Homo sapiens: one gene and its partners. The protein of the gene in region 1 purifies or fractionates together with the protein of each later gene. This does not show direct contact. Each region holds a gene or a part of one and is shown in the gene's direction. Other genes may lie near its edges.

The links. The genes of interacting proteins can lie anywhere in the genome.
Region 2: the proteins of ARFGAP3 (region 1) and PPIP5K2 purify together in Homo sapiens (affinity purification with mass spectrometry, with the first as the bait; one large-scale study listed by BioGRID). This does not show direct contact.
Region 3: the proteins of ARFGAP3 (region 1) and SHPK purify together in Homo sapiens (affinity purification with mass spectrometry, with the first as the bait; one large-scale study listed by BioGRID). This does not show direct contact.
Region 4: the proteins of ARFGAP3 (region 1) and ADI1 fractionate together in Homo sapiens (co-fractionation; one large-scale study listed by BioGRID). This does not show direct contact.

What each region holds. Positions count from the first base shown.
Region 1 is NC_000022.11:42,815,774-42,819,273, reverse strand, and holds part of ARFGAP3 (ADP-ribosylation factor GTPase-activating protein 3), read left to right. Parts: intron 1-1,416; coding exon 1,417-1,545; intron 1,546-2,009; coding exon 2,010-2,132; intron 2,133-3,500.
Region 2 is NC_000005.10:103,119,030-103,123,100, forward strand, and holds the start of PPIP5K2 (inositol hexakisphosphate and diphosphoinositol-pentakisphosphate kinase 2), read left to right. Parts: upstream 1-1,271; 5' UTR 1,272-1,459; intron 1,460-4,071. UniProt on the Homo sapiens protein: Bifunctional inositol kinase that acts in concert with the IP6K kinases IP6K1, IP6K2 and IP6K3 to synthesize the diphosphate group-containing inositol pyrophosphates diphosphoinositol pentakisphosphate, PP-InsP5, and bis-diphosphoinositol tetrakisphosphate, (PP)2-InsP4.
Region 3 is NC_000017.11:3,619,251-3,622,750, reverse strand, and holds part of SHPK (sedoheptulokinase), read left to right. Parts: intron 1-1,338; coding exon 1,339-1,514; intron 1,515-2,822; exon of another isoform or gene 2,823-3,000; intron 3,001-3,306; exon of another isoform or gene 3,307-3,500. UniProt on the Homo sapiens protein: Acts as a modulator of macrophage activation through control of glucose metabolism.
Region 4 is NC_000002.12:3,516,732-3,520,883, reverse strand, and holds the start of ADI1 (acireductone dioxygenase), read left to right. Parts: upstream 1-1,352; 5' UTR 1,353-1,396; coding exon 1,397-1,516; intron 1,517-3,136; exon of another isoform or gene 3,137-4,152. UniProt on the Homo sapiens protein: Catalyzes 2 different reactions between oxygen and the acireductone 1,2-dihydroxy-3-keto-5-methylthiopentene (DHK-MTPene) depending upon the metal bound in the active site.

The sequences.
Region 1 (3,500 bases):
AAAGTAGTATTTATTTGTTAAGGAATAAAATAGCCATAACCTGTTCTGTAGGAAGAGTAAGGAAAACAAACTGCCATGTGAAAACCAAAGAAATCTTGCTTGACTCATTAAAGAAAAGAAACAGCAAAAGCAAGATTACTTTTTCCTAATAAGAAATTCTGCACCGGGCGCGGTGGCTCATGCCTGTAATCCCAGGACTCTTTGAGGCAGAGGCAGGCAGATCGCCTGAGGTCAGGAGTTCGAGACCAGCCTGGCCAACATGGTGAAACCTCGTCTCTACTAAAAATAGAAAAATTAGCTGGATATGGTGGCAGGTGCCTGTAATCCCAGCTACTCGGGAGGCTGAGGCAGGAGAATTGCTTGAACCTCGTGGGTGGAGGTTGCAGTGAGCCAAGATTGCACCACTGCACTCCAGCCTGGGCGACAGAGCAAGACTCCATTTCAAAAAACAGAAAGAAATTCTGTTGTCTTTCCCTATTACTATGCAGAAATTTATTTATATTACTAGGAATTTATACAATGCCTCTTTTGCCAGGAATTCATGGTATTTTACATGTTTTTATAAAGTGGATGATAACTTAGAAATCCTTGTAAGTTAGATAGATCATTTTTCAGGGCCCTGAAATGTTGTGCTGTCTCACTAAAATATGATGCAAACTGCTATTCTTGCTATATAGGCATAGTTTTCTTTATGAAAAATTAAGTCATTATTGCATTTTTAGAAATCTGAGAGCAAGGACAATGTTTTGTACACCTTTTTACCCCTTTGGTGTCCTGCTTGTAGCAGATATTTGATTTTAAATAGAAGAGTGGTATTTGACTGACTAGTAGTGCTAAAGAGTCTATTAGCTGATGAGTCACTATCCCATTTTAAATGCTCTCAGAAGCCTGATTGCATAGAGATGTATCTACAAGAAATTATTTTGTAAATGGAAGGATCCTTTTACAATTAAGTAATAGCCCCTTAGTTGATCTATTTGTAAAGTCAAATTTATATATTTATTTATTTATCTTAAATCAAGATAGACTAGTGAGACTAACCTCATGCTTTGTTATGTAATGTGGAAGTGTAATAAAATATTAATCCAAGTAAGAAATCTTGCTTTTCACTATCCCATATGGAAGTGATTTGGGTATACATTATGTTATTATACAATAATAGGTAACATGAACTAAACTTGAACAGTGGTATAGGTTGAGCAGCAATGAGAAAGTGGCTGTAAGCTCATTCAAATTTTCTTAAACGTCTGTTCAAAAAAGGCAGGTAGAAAAAACACCAACTTGCCTTCATAATTGTTAATTATGGAAAGAATCATGAAGCTAAAAGTATAAATTACATGTTTAATTTTGCTTGCTATTTTAATATAAGAACAAAGGATTAAAGCTAAATTAAGGAGTATTTGGTTTTTCTGGCAGTGTTTCATCATTACGATTAGCCTATAAGGATCTTGAAATTCAAATGAAGAAAGACGAAAAGATGAACATTAGTGGCAAAAAAAATGTTGACTCAGACAGACTCGGCATGGGATTTGGAAATTGCAGAAGGTATGTGAGACTGCTTTCTTGGAGTTAGAATTTAAAACAGTGTGTCAATCATCAGTGGATTTTTCTTGGACTGTGTTAGTTTCAACTTTAGAGATTTTTTTTTGTTATTCATTAACTTCTCTAATTATTTTTGCTTTGCTCTGGTATTCAGTATAACATGAAAAATTTCAAATTTGGCTCTTTAAAAGAAGGAAAAAGGTCTGGCTCTTTACATGAAGCACCTACCAGAGAGGAAACCATGGACATAACCAATATTTGTGACTGCATTTGGTGTAGACACAGTCCTCACAAAATTTTAACATTTTTGAAAGCTTGCACCAGAAAAAAAAATTGTTTTATTGCTTATGTTTTTAACCCCTCGAATACATTTGTCTTTGTTCAAAACATAAATTAAAGCTTTGTTTATTTTGGTGAAACAAAAGTTTGTGAACTTACTGATATATATATTTTTCTGTTTTCTCAAGTGTTATTTCACATTCAGTGACTTCAGATATGCAGACCATAGAGCAGGAATCACCCATTATGGCAAAACCAAGAAAAAAGTATAATGATGACAGTGACGATTCATATTTTACTTCCAGCTCAAGGTACTGTATTACAAATCATCGTTGAAGTGTCATTTTGAAAAGCAGTGACTAGTATGGATTTATTAGTTTATTTGCATTAGGAGAAATTACAAATCAATTTACTTCACTGTTTTTAAAAGCTCTGGCTGGAGCCAGAGCTGTTCTTTGGAGTAAAAATTAGAGAAACGTTTGTAAAAGAACAACGTTGGCTAATATTAAAATGTTTGGCAATAAAATCAGCAACTGTGAGTTAAAATTAGAGGTAGGAGAGATGTGCTTATTTAAATTATGAAATTGGAGAAAACTGCAAAATCCTGAAGGTATGTGTTGTTTAGTCCAGCAGTGGGAATATTTCACAGCTCTTTCTCAGGGCTTCAGCAGATTTCTGTGCTTCAGAATGCCAGCTTCAGAAAACTCCAGTTGGTACAATAGTGCATTAAATAAACTCTATGGGTGTGTGTATTTATTAATGAGGAAGATGATTGTACTTTGAGGGGACCCCAGAGTAAAGCCTAGGTTTCTCTCCTTCAGCACTCACTATCTTATTGAGACAAAATGCATAACTCTAGTGTGAAGCTGACTGTGGAGAGCAGTGCACGGTCAAGTGGCCTGCCAGAGCAAAGAGAACAAGTTTAAACTTGAGTCAGTTCACTTCGTAAGGACCTGCTCGGCCCAGTGAGAGGTCTGCTAAAAAGGCACAAAATGAACCTGTGATTTCACTGGAGAGGGCACAGCTCAGGAACAGAGGGGTAAGAATATGGGCCCAGGGGCCAGATGGCATGGATTTGAATCCTGGCTTTCACTTACTTGTCACCTAGGCCAAGTTATTTAACTTCTTTGTGCTATAGCTTCCTCATCTGTAAATTAGGGACCCTAGTAATACCTACCCAATAGGGTTGTGTGAGGATCGAATGAGATACTGCGAATGCTATAGCACGTTTAGAATGGTGCTTGGCTCTTACTATGTTTAGCTGCTATATGATAATATAGAAACTCAGTTTAAGAGATGTGATTCAGTCTAAATGTTTTTTGTTTGTTTGTTTGTTTATGAGATAGAGTCTCACTCTGTCACCCAGGCTGGAGTACAGTAGCATGATCTCGGCTCACTGCAACCTCCACCTCCCAGGTTCAAGCAATTCTTATGCCTCAGCCTCCTGAGTAGCTGGGACTACAGGCGTGTGCCACCATACCCGGCTAATTTTTTGTATTTTTAATAGAGATGGAGTTTCGCCATGTTGGCCAGGCTGGTCTCAAACCCCTGACTTCAAGTGATCTGCTGGCCTCAGCCTCCCAAAGTGCTGAGATTACAGGCATGAGCCTCCACGCCCAGCCTAAATGTTTGATTACTATTGTTAGGTAGTTAAACTAACCACATTGAGGACCACCTTT
Region 2 (4,071 bases), on another chromosome or scaffold:
GAATGTCAGGGTCACATTTGGTTAAGCTTTATACACTTTGTCCCCTCCATAAAAGCAAATAAAATCAACTCATTGCTTAATTCCTTTAATAATTTTGTGTTCAATAAAGTAAGGCAGTTAGGTATTATGTCAAGATTAGGACTTAACTGTTTCACCAAGGGTTAAAAACAAAGCCACCAATTTAAGCCCCTAAAAGGTTATAATACCCGCTGGTTCCATCTTAAAATCTGCAATTTTCAATCAACATGTTAACTTGGATCGGAATTCTGACATTTGAATTATTCTATTTTAAGCTCCAAAAAATGGACACGCACAATTTTATGCAACGTCAAGGACCTGTAAATTTAAATACACTTCTCTGTAATCTGGTTCACTTCAGAGTACAAATTCATTGAACAAAAAAATGCCTTCATCGCCATATGCATTCACATGAAGCCACATGGGATAAATGCATTTCCACTTTAAAAAGTATCTACTTTGGTTCAGAAATGCCCATTTAAGAAAAACCTACACTGAGATAAAGTGGACATTTTTCTTTTAAAACTACGTGACAGGATTCCCTCTTGACCTCACGTTTCTCCCCGCCACGTATTTAAATTTGGGGCAAAATTTCTGATTAAATGACTGATCAAAGTAATGGGGAGAATTCTTCAACGCCGGCCAAAAGTGCTTAGTCTCAAACGCTGTGAGGGAGCATTTCCTAAGCTTTGGGCGACTCGTTAACGGAATCTTAAGGGCAAGGTCCAACCACACTCAGAATCAGCAGGAAAATGACCGTTTGGTAAAACTCAATTACACCCAGTAGGCACCTCCCCAGGCCCGAAACAGCACTCGCCCTTTCTGCTCAGCTAGCGCGGGACATCGCAACGCCCAAGGCCCTCCTATCTCAAAGGCGCTTGCGCAAAATCTCCCCACAGACTCAATTAAACCCTTCCTTAGGCCGGTCGAGGCGAATGGTTTTGAAATTACTGTCGGGTTACGCCTCACTTTAAAAAACAGTAGGTATGACACAGCACACCAGAACGACCACTCACCGAGGTGGTCCTAAATTCAAACGACAGATTTAAGCTTCCTCTCGTGATTTATCTCGCGCTGCCGGAAGCGGAACTACCCGGGTCCTTTAGAGGGCAGTCCTTTGGGGAACCTTGGAACCACGGTCAGAAAGGTTAGGACTGATCATTTGGCTCTTGCCGGAAATCGTTCCGCCCGGTGAGGTTTCGGCGTGAGACCCGAGGAGGGCGGGGAAGAGGCGTGACGGAGATTCCTGAGGTGTAGTAGCCTGAGGTTCCCTTATGTGGCCCTATAGCTGTTACTGAAGGAAGTAGCCTACGTCCACGCCTACAACTGAAGTCTCTTGACAAACACCTCACCCCTGCCTCCGGGATGAAAGGGGGTAACCTAGACCTGAATGGGCTTGACCATCTCACAACTGCTCGCGTGACGACCGCATTCGTGGCAGGTGAGGGCCCAAAACCGGAGGAGAACCGGAGATGCGGAACCTGATCATGCCAGGGTTGAGGCGGCTGCTGGGCTTCTGCTTTGTCTCCTGTGCTCTGCAGACCCTAAACACATGCTCCACCGAGGGGCTTGTGCTGGAGAGAATGACAGCCTGGGCGTGGAGTGACAGTACAGCTTTGAGGGTCCTTTCGCGCCTTGATTTCTCCTCCTGCTCCCCCATGGCTTCCCTTTTTCATTTCTTGGGTTCGAGACGCCAGAAATTGAAGATCAGCTAAAAGGGAACCGCTGAGCTTCTACCCCACGCTGTGCCTGGCTCCACTGAAGTGATTAGCCTCGAGTTATGGGACTGCTGTGGGTAGAGGTGGCTTTTTAAAAAATTTTCTGCCTTAGTCTTTATCCCTCTCTCTGTCAACCCCACACCCACTTTAAAATAACAAAAGCCTCATGTGTTGCAGCTTTTCATAGTAGGGACCGAGGCTGCAGGGCACTGCCGCACCTAGTCATTTGGAGGTCGTTGCAGCCTTCTGCGCCTTGAAGAAGAAGGGGCCAGGGTGATGATCCCTGGATCTCATTCACGAGGTTCTTGACCACTTCCTGGGAGATTGCGACTCTTGGTGTCCTTTGGCTAGTAGTTGTCTTGCTGGAAGGCTTAACTGTGGAAGTGGGAAGCATAGCTGACCTTAGCACGTAAAATCCTCGCTCTACACTGGGACAGGATTTTGTTTTGCTATTGAGAATTCTTAAATGAAATAGATAATTTTTTTGTCTCAGATAGATAAAATAATAACGATAGTTGCCATTAACTGAGTCTTATGTGTGCCGAGTGCTTTACATAGTTTGTCATTTATTCCTCTCAACAATTCCAGGAGGTATGTTAGATTATTATCACCATTTTACAGAGTTAGAAATGGAGGCTTTGAACAGTCAAGCAACTTGCTCTATTAAACATTTGTTATAAGTAAACGTTTGAATCTGTGTTAAAAACCAGATCTGTCTGCCTTCAAAATCTGTATTCTATTGTCCTGTCCTGTTCTTCCTCGATTTCAATTTCTTCACTAACATTTTCAGTGTCTGAAAGTATCCATTCATTTAAAAAATTTTGGTGTACCTACTTATATGTCTGACAAAAGTTAGACATGATCTCTGTCTTTATGGAGCATTGTGATGCAGAATTAAGTAGTGCAGAACCCAGAATACTGTACTTACTGCAGCACAGGTTTATTTAAAGCAAATGACTAAACTGATTTGCAGAAAATTTTAAAATCAAAGGTTGCTGTTTTAAATGTTAAATTCATATGACTTTCAGAGTAGTTGTTGTGAGGGTATTAAACTGAACAATTGGTAGAACATCTGTTGATTACCCAAATAAGTGCTATGAACCAAGTTAAGTAGTGGGAATATATAGATTAGGTCCTCATTCTTTAAAAGCTCCCATGCAACCACAATATAGACAATGTTATGGACTATTAATTTTCTCACGTGGAAAAGGAATTGTGGTTATGTAGGAAGGTGTTCTTATTTTTAGCAGATACATACTAACGTACTTAGAGTTGAAGTGTGTTGATATCTAGTACTTTCAAATGGTACAGCAAGTGTATGTGTGTGTATGTGTCTGTGTGTATAAATAGCAAATATGGCAAAATGTTGGCAATTGTGAGTATAATGGTGGGCATATAGATGATTAACAAACTGTTCTTTCAACTTTTCCGAATATTTGAAATTTTTCATAATAAAAAGTTGGGGAGGAAAAAACCCAACCCTGATGGAAACAGATAAGTGAAAAGATAGATCCAAAATGCTGCGGAACATAGAAGATGGGAGAGGGTTTTTATGTGTATTTGGGGCCTAACAGAAGTGTGATAGTTCTCAGGAAAACCTTCACTGAAGACCTTTCAGTTGGTTTTTGAATGGCGGATAGGAACTTTCAAGGAGAGCAGTGAATTCCAGGCAGAAGGAAATGCAGGTTCAGCAAAAAGATATTAAATGAACGTTTGAAGAAGGAAAAAGAAATCAACAAGAAGGTTGTGTGGAACTTGGAATAGGCTTTTTTTGTGTAATCTTATAAATGAGCCAGGTTGCCTTTGCCAGCCTGCAGAAGCCTATTTATTCCCTATTACCTGGATGTACTATTGGTGGAAAGGAGACACCATTTATAACAGTGTTTCCATTGGAAAATGCTTTTGGAATTTCAGGAAAACTGGTTATGTGTTTGCGTTTAGGCTAAGCAGCAGGAGCAGGAGCTCCCATTTCCTCTGATTTTGAGAGCAGAGATTTACTAGTTTATAGTTGGGCTCCTGAGGGAACCCATGAAAAGGGCTACAGTGATGGCTTGGAAATATTAAGTTCAGGTAAGGGGGATCTGAATACTAGGTGGGACTGATGGATGATCCAGGGTGTTATTTTGAGGATCAGGTAGCTCTGGCCGTGACCAGTAAAGGTATGGAAGAGATGATTATCCCAGGCAGTAGTGTTCATGATAGTCTCAAGCAGTGTGGTAAGACTAGAAAAGGTGTAAAGAGGTCTCCAACAACAGCAGTGGCAAACGGGAGTTTCTGTGGCTTCATTAGACAAGAGGTAAGTAGATACATTCTAAATTGAGTTATTTATATTTGT
Region 3 (3,500 bases), on another chromosome or scaffold:
CCTGGGGGACAGAGCGAGACTCTTGTCTCAAAAAAAAAAAAAAAGAAAAAAGAACTAGAGATAGTAGGCTTGAAGGATGCCTTTTAAGTTCTTTTTGAACAATCATTTGCCTTTTCAGGTACAGAAGTCCAGTGCCCTGTAAGTTCACTTCCTTCAGGGCCCAAATTCTGAGCTCTGAAATAAAACAAAAAGCACCTGGTAGTTCAGGTAAAGGACTTTCCAGCATGTTGTGTGAAGTTGACAGCTTCCCATTCACTAACCCTGAGTGACTAACACGTTTGATATTCAGGAGCCTGCTGCATTTGACTTTGGTTTGGGCTGTGCTCACCAACCATAATGGCGCCGAACCTCCGGCTGCCTCCCTTTGCAGAGTTTTTGAGCTCCCTTCAAACATGGGAGGCTGGACTTGATCACGGCTGCCTATGTTGTTTGTTTTCTTTCCTGGAAGGTGAATCCTAAGCTTATGAAAGCCAGTGTACTCTATTGACAAAGCCTAAGCTCATGGTTTTAAAAAAGCCAGAGAAGCTGCCTGTGAGGGCACTGAATTCTATCCCCACTTCGGCCATGTGTGTCCTATAGCACTTTCCCATGCAGAGTTTCCTGGAAACAAACAAACAACAACAAAAAAGGAAAGCAGCTGGGTGTGGTGGTGCAGGCCTGTAATCCCAGCTGCTTGGGAGGCTGAGGTGGGAGAATTGCTTGAGCCTGGGAGGTTGAGGTTACAGTGAGCAGTGATCACACCACTCCACTCCAGCCTGGGTAACAGAGCTAGACCCTGTCTCAAAAAAAGAAAGAAGGAGCCGGGTGTGGTGGGTCGCGCCTGTAATCCCAGCACTTTGGGAGGCTGAAGCGGGTGAACGATGTGAGGTCAGGAGTTCGAGACCAGCCTGGCCAAGATGGCGAAACCCCGTCTCTACTAAAAATACAAAAATTAGCTGGGCATGGTGGTGTGCGCCTGTAATCCCAGCTATTAGGGAGGCTGAGGCAGGAGAATTGCTTGAACCTGGGAGGTGGAGGTTGCAGTGAGCTGAGATGGTGCCACTGCACTCCAGCCTGGGCAACAGAGCAAGACTCCATCTCAAAAAAATAAATAAGTAAAAAAGAAAGAAAGAAGGAAGGAAGGAAGGAAGGGAGGGAGGGAGGGAGGGAAGGAATGGAGAGAAGGAGGAAAGGAAGGGAGGGAAAGAGGGAAGGAGTAAAGAGAAGGGAGGGAGGGAGGAAAGGAAAGGAAGAAGGGAGGGAGGAATGGAGAGAAGGAAGGGAGGAAGGAAGGAAGGATCCCTTAAATTCCCGAAACCTAACTGTGGGTCCATGTGGGTGTCCACTTCTGTTTTACAGACTGAGGAGCTCGGGTTTTCCTGTCCACCTGCTCCCAGACATCGCCGAGCCTGGCAGTGTGGCGGGCAGAACTTCCCACATGTGGTTTGAAATCCCAAAGGGGACGCAGGTGGGAGTGGCCTTGGGTGATTTACAGGCCTCTGTCTATTCCTGCATGGCCCAGAGGACAGATGCAGGTAAGTTTTTCTTTTGTTCTGTCCTCAGACTTACACTGTCGCCTGCCTCATAAGCACCAGCTCTGTGCGAGTCTGCAGGGCACACAGAGCTTAGCAGTCTTGGCATCCTGCTGGAGATCATTATTCTGTAAAGATGAAAAGCACCCTTGTCCTTGCAGGTAAAATCCTCTATTGAGGGAGCTTACAGGCCAGCAGGGCAAGTTCTGTCCCTGAGCACCAACCATCTGTGCTGACCACCTCTGGGGCTGGGTGAGAGAAACGGCTCTTTCTAGCTTTCTGGTTTCTATGTGACTCCGGGCCCAAGAAAACAGATGAGCTGATGAGGGTTTTGGTTACTGTGTTGGAAGTGATGTCAGATCTGATTAGAAGTGCAGGATAGGCTGGGCGCGGTGGCTCACGCCTGTAATCCCAGCACTTTGGGAGGCCGAGGCAGGCGGATCACGAGGTCAGGAGTTCAAGACCAGCCTGGCCAAGATGGTGAAACCCTGTCTCTACTAAAAATACCAAAATTAGCCAGGTGTGGTGGTGGGTGCCTGTAATCCCAGCTACTCAGGAGGCTGAGGCAGAGAATCGCTTGAACCCGGGAGGCGGAGGTTTCAGTGAGCTGAGATCACATCACTGCACTCCAGCCTGACGACAGAGCGAGACTCCATCTCAAAACAAAACAAAACGGCCGGGCGCAGTGGCTCATGCCTGTAATCCCAGCACTTTGGGAGGCCAAGGCAGGTGGATCACGAGGTCAGGAGATCGAGACCATCCTGGCTAACACGGTGAAACCCCATCTGTATTAAAAAAAAAAATAGAAAAAATTAGCCAGGCATAGTGATGGGCGCCTGTAGTCCCAGCTACTTGGGAGGCTGAGGCAGGAGAATGGTGTGAACCCGGAAGGCAGAGCTTGCAGTGAGCCGAGATCGTGCCACTGCACTCCGGCCTGGGCGACAGAGCAAGACTCTGTCTCAAAAAAAAAAAAAGAAGTGTAGAATATTTTCTGTATTCATAGTAAGGGAATCATGGTGAGGTAGAGGCAGCTGTGTCTAGGGCAGGGATTGGCTCTTTTACTCTAAAGGGCAGAAAATATTTTCTGTAAATATTTTCGGCTTTGCGGATCATGCCGTCTCTGTTGTAACTGCTCAGCTGTGCTGTAGGAATTCAAAAGCAGCCATAGACGATATGTAAATGAGCGGGTGTAGCTGTGTTCCAATAAAACATTGTTCATAGACACTGAAATGGGAATGCCACATAATTTTCATGTGTCATGAAAAATTCTTCTTTTAATTTTTTTTCAACCATTTAAAAACGTGAGAACGTGGGACGATATGGCGCTTGGCGGCGCTGGGAGGCCGGAGCCCAGGGCTCGTGGCCATGTTGTCAGGTGCTCACAGGTAGACAGCAGAGGAGAGGAACCAAGCTATACTCAATCTTAAAGCAGCAGGATGGTCAGAATTAAGTGAGAGAGAGATGCCATCTACAAATCATTCTTCTTCCAAATTTTTTTTTTTTTTTTGAGATGGAGTCTCACTCTGTCGCCCAGGCTGGAGTGCAGTGGTGTGATCTCGGCTCACTGCAATCTCTGCCTCTGGGGTTCAAGCGATTCTCCTGCCTTGTCCTCCCGAGTAGATGGGACTACAGGCGCACACCACCATGGCTGGTTAATGTTTGCATTTTTAGTAGACACGGGGTTTCACCATGTTGGCCAGGATGGTCTCAATCTCTTCACCTTGTGATCTGCCTGCCTTGGCCTCCCAAAGTGCTGGGATTACAGGTGTGAGCCATCGTGCCCGGCCTCTCCGTCCAAATTTTTAATCAGGCATTTGGCTTTATGTCCCGAGTTGCCCTACAAGCAGAGAAGATGAATCATCACCCGGAATGGTTCAATGTATAAAACAAGGTCCAGATAACTCTCACCTCACGTAACTGTGGTGGACTGATCAAAAGAGATGTGAAGCTGGCCACGTTTATTGAAAAAGCAGCTTCTTCTGTGTGATT
Region 4 (4,152 bases), on another chromosome or scaffold:
GAATGAGGTCCAGGTTGGAGATGTGGCTGCAGGAGCCGGCAGCACAGCATGGAAAGTCGCCTGGAGTGAGTGGATAGGAACAGGACGAGGAGAGTCTGGAACGCTCCACTAACCAGTGGTTAGAGGAGCAGGAGCTAGGAGGGGCCTGGGAAGGAGCAGCCAAGATGCCCTCATGAAGGAAAATGAGAAAATGTTTCAAGAAGGGCGTGGGCAACTGTGACGAATGTTGCTGGTAAGAACAGAAGTGCCATGATTGGATCTGGCAATATGGCAGTCATTAGCAGTTCCCCAGTGGTGAGAAGCGAAGCCTTATTGCAGTGGCTTAAGGAGAAAATGCGAGGTGCGAGATTGCCATTAGATTCTTGCATGAAGGTTTGTCATGAGTGCTGCAGAAAAATGGGCAATGGCGTCTAAGGTGTGTTCTTGAAGGATGAGTAGTAACTGGTCAAGTGAAGAGGTGGAGAGGTAGGCTCTCTAAGGAGGATGTATTTGCAAAGCCATTAGAGCAAGGGAACAGAAATGAAATAAGTGTGTATTTTTCTTGCAATATTTCTGGAAGTTCAAGAGTCAATTGCATGCATTGGGGTTGTGCTCTTACAGCAGTCTCATTTAAATCCTGTCTGCTTTATCGTTATTTGTTAAAGAGACTGAGGGAATGGCTGAGATAATCTGATCTTTTTCAACTCGTTGGTTTGAAAAGACATCTAGGATGGTCAAGCGGCTGGACTTTATTAGCTACATTGAAAAATTCAGAATGGGATAGGGGAAGCTTGTTTTTATTCTAAGACTAGCACATTACAGTGTATGGGGAAGGGAGAAACGATGAAAAGAGGAAACAAGAGGAAGTTTAAAAAGTACAGGGTAGCACTGCAGAATGCCGACACTGCAAAAGTCTGGCGAGCGGGGAGGTGGAGGACAATGTCTCACCTGGGATCCGAGCTGTGAAGTCTCAACTGTGCCCATATGGACTGCATGAGCTTAACAAAATCCTTATTCTTTTTTTTTTTTTTTTGCATTTGCTTTCCATACTCTAAACACGTTTAACGTCGTTTGCCTCACAAGATTGCTCTGAAGGTGCAGGGAGACCGCGGCAGCACACACAAGGCACGTGCGATGCCTACGGTGAGCTTCACCTGCCCGGCGCGTCTGGCGAACGGCTGGCCCCGGGCCGCGGGCCTCAGGCAGGTCCGAGGGTGCCCAGGACAGGGTCGGGGCTTGAATGCCTTTGCTTCCGAAAACAGCGGAGCCGTGGGGCCTCCCCCGCGCCGGCCCTGCCTCCAACCAGCCGCCCAATCCCGGCTCCCATGCGCGTCCACGCCTCCCTATAAGATAAAGCGCGGCCGACGGGCTCCGAGCGCGGCCCCTGGGTTCGAACACGGCACCCGCACTGCGCGTCATGGTGCAGGCCTGGTATATGGACGACGCCCCGGGCGACCCGCGGCAACCCCACCGCCCCGACCCCGGCCGCCCAGTGGGCCTGGAGCAGCTGCGGCGGCTCGGGGTGCTCTACTGGAAGGTACGCGAGCCCAAGCCTCGCAGAGCGTGCGGGCGACGCCGACCCCCAAACGCCGCGCACAGCCCAGCCTCCTCCAGGTGCCGGGCAGCGGCCTGGGAGCCGCGGCATGCTGCGCATGCTCAGCAGCGGGATTTGGGGGTTCGTGGCGGCTCCCGGTGCCTGGGGTGGGCTGCGCATGCTCAGCAGTGGGGCTGGGTGGTCAGGGCCTCCTGCGCGGCGCCTGGGTGTGCTGCGCATGCTCAGCAGCGGCGTTGAGGGGTCGGCGGTCAGCCCCCAGCGCCTGTGGTGTGCTGCGCATGCTCAGCAGCGAAGTTTACGGGGTTGGCGGTCGGCTTCCGGCGCCTGGGGTGGGCTGCGCATGCTCAGCAGCGGGGCTGGTGGGGGTCGGCGGTCCGTTTCTGTTGCCTGGGGTGTGCTGCGCATGCTCAGCAGCAGAGTTGGCGAGTCAGGGGCCTCGCAGCCGGGACTCGCTGCGCACGCGCAGCTCCGGGATTGGCAGCGACCTGAAGGGTCGGCCGGCAGGGCTGCAAGATTCGCCGGAGGCGGGCTGCGAGTTCGTGGGCTCGTTGGGCTTGTCCGACGCCCTGCCTGCCTGGCTAACCTCGGTCAAAGGCCCAGGGGTTTCTTCTATCGGAGGAAGGGGGACTCCGCTTGAAAGTGTCCTGGGGGAGGGACCGGGCGCCAGCAGATCGAGGCGGGGTCCTGCCGCGGTCTGTCGGGGATCCCCGGGGGGTAGCGCTCGGTGGTGGGGTGGGGGCGTCTCCAGTGGGCGGTGGAGCTGGCTTGGGTCCCGGCTGGGCCCGGTGTCAGCCCTGCCTCTGTAACGCTAGCTTTGCAAGGCGGGGCTAGGCTTTGCACCGGTGTCCCGTTGCTTGCACAGCACCAGTCCAGATCCGCTCACCTTGTTTATTTGCAAATGGTTTTGCAGTAACAAAGGTTTACTGCAAAAGAGAGGGCCAGGGTAGGCCTCAGGGATAGGCTGAGGGGTGACTGGATCTAATCTTCATTCATGTGATTTAAATGAAATACACAGGGTTACCTGGACACCACACTTTTTCCCTTGGGAAAGGATTATAGAATATTCCAGCATAATCTATTTGGATATCATCTTGTTCTATCCTAAATAACAGAAGAGGGAAGTGACAATTGGCATACCAGTGCGAAACAGGGCATGCATGTTAATGTTTACATAGTATTTGTCTTTTCCTAGGATAAGGTTTAACACTTACCTTGCTGGAGGGTACTTCTTCAAAGCAATCAAGTGGTTTATAGTTTTCCATTAATGAGAGGAGAATAAATTTTGACTTATTATGTTTATCCACAATCCAAACAACCAGAGGGTTCAAATTAATACACTTGGGGAGTTTCATTGTGCATTTGACGGTTTTAAGAACAAGAACAAGAGTGAGATTACAGGTCAGCTTCTTAATGTATTCAAAGAATAAAATAAGATTTATTTTAATAGACATCTTTTAGATTATTACATGGGCTCAAACATAGTTTTTCCTACCGTCTAGTTCTGCTCTGAGTCAGGGCTATCAAAATTAAATCATGTTTACTCTGTGGTTTTAATGTCCTGTGTGTTTTTATATTCTTCCTTTCTTTTTTTTTTTTGCTCTTTTTGCCCAGGCTGGAGTGCAGTGGCATGATCTCGGCTCACCGCAACCTCATCTTCCCGAGTTCAAGCCATTCTCATGTGTCAGCCTCCCGAGTAGCTGGGATTACAAGGTGCACAGCACCATGCCGGGCTAATTTTGTATTTTTAGTAGAGACAGGGTTTCTCCATGTTGGTCAGGCTGATCTTGAACTGCTGACCTCAGGTGATCCACCCACTTCGGCCTCCCAAAGTGCTGGCATTATAGACACGAACCACCGCACCCGGCCTATATGCTTTCTTAATATCCATTCTGGATCAGTGCTGTTGGAAGACAAAATTACAACAAATTTAGTTAAAGATCTAATTAGCTTTTATTCTTGATTTGTGAATAGGGCAACCTCCGTTCTACAAAATAGAATAAGAGCTCGATAGGGTAATAGCACAACAGTGGGTTTTGTAGGGCGGCAACAAAGAAACAGAACAATAGGTAGAAAAGCTGATTGGTTAACGTCAAGTTACATTAGGTTACTTTTTTCCTAAGGGTTAAAGCAGAAGCGACTTCCTTATTATTCTGACTCAGGAAGACTGGAATCTTCTGATCGCAGGAAAAGCTGGTCTGTTTGAGATGCACCTCCTTCTTTAAAGTTTTAGTTTGATCAAGTGGCATATGGCATGAGTGGCTGCATTTTGGTTTGGTCTCATCCTGGGGCCTAGTGCAGGGGCTCAGTCCAAAACAGTGACCTCTCCTGGGCCAGGCATGGTGGCTTCTGTCATCCCAGCACTTTGGGAGGCTGAGGCGGCAGATTGCCTGAAGCCAGAAGTTTGAGACCTCATCTCTAAAAAAACCCAAAAAACAAAAAAGCCACACACACACCCCATATTAACATTATATATATGTAACATCTCCCATAATTTTTAACAGAGGTAACACATGTGGACATGTTTGTGTATCTGTTTAATCAATCTGTTATTAGTGACATAGAGTTCTAAAAAACCTTTTGTCATACATACAAACAATTGGAAGATTATTTTAGCTTGG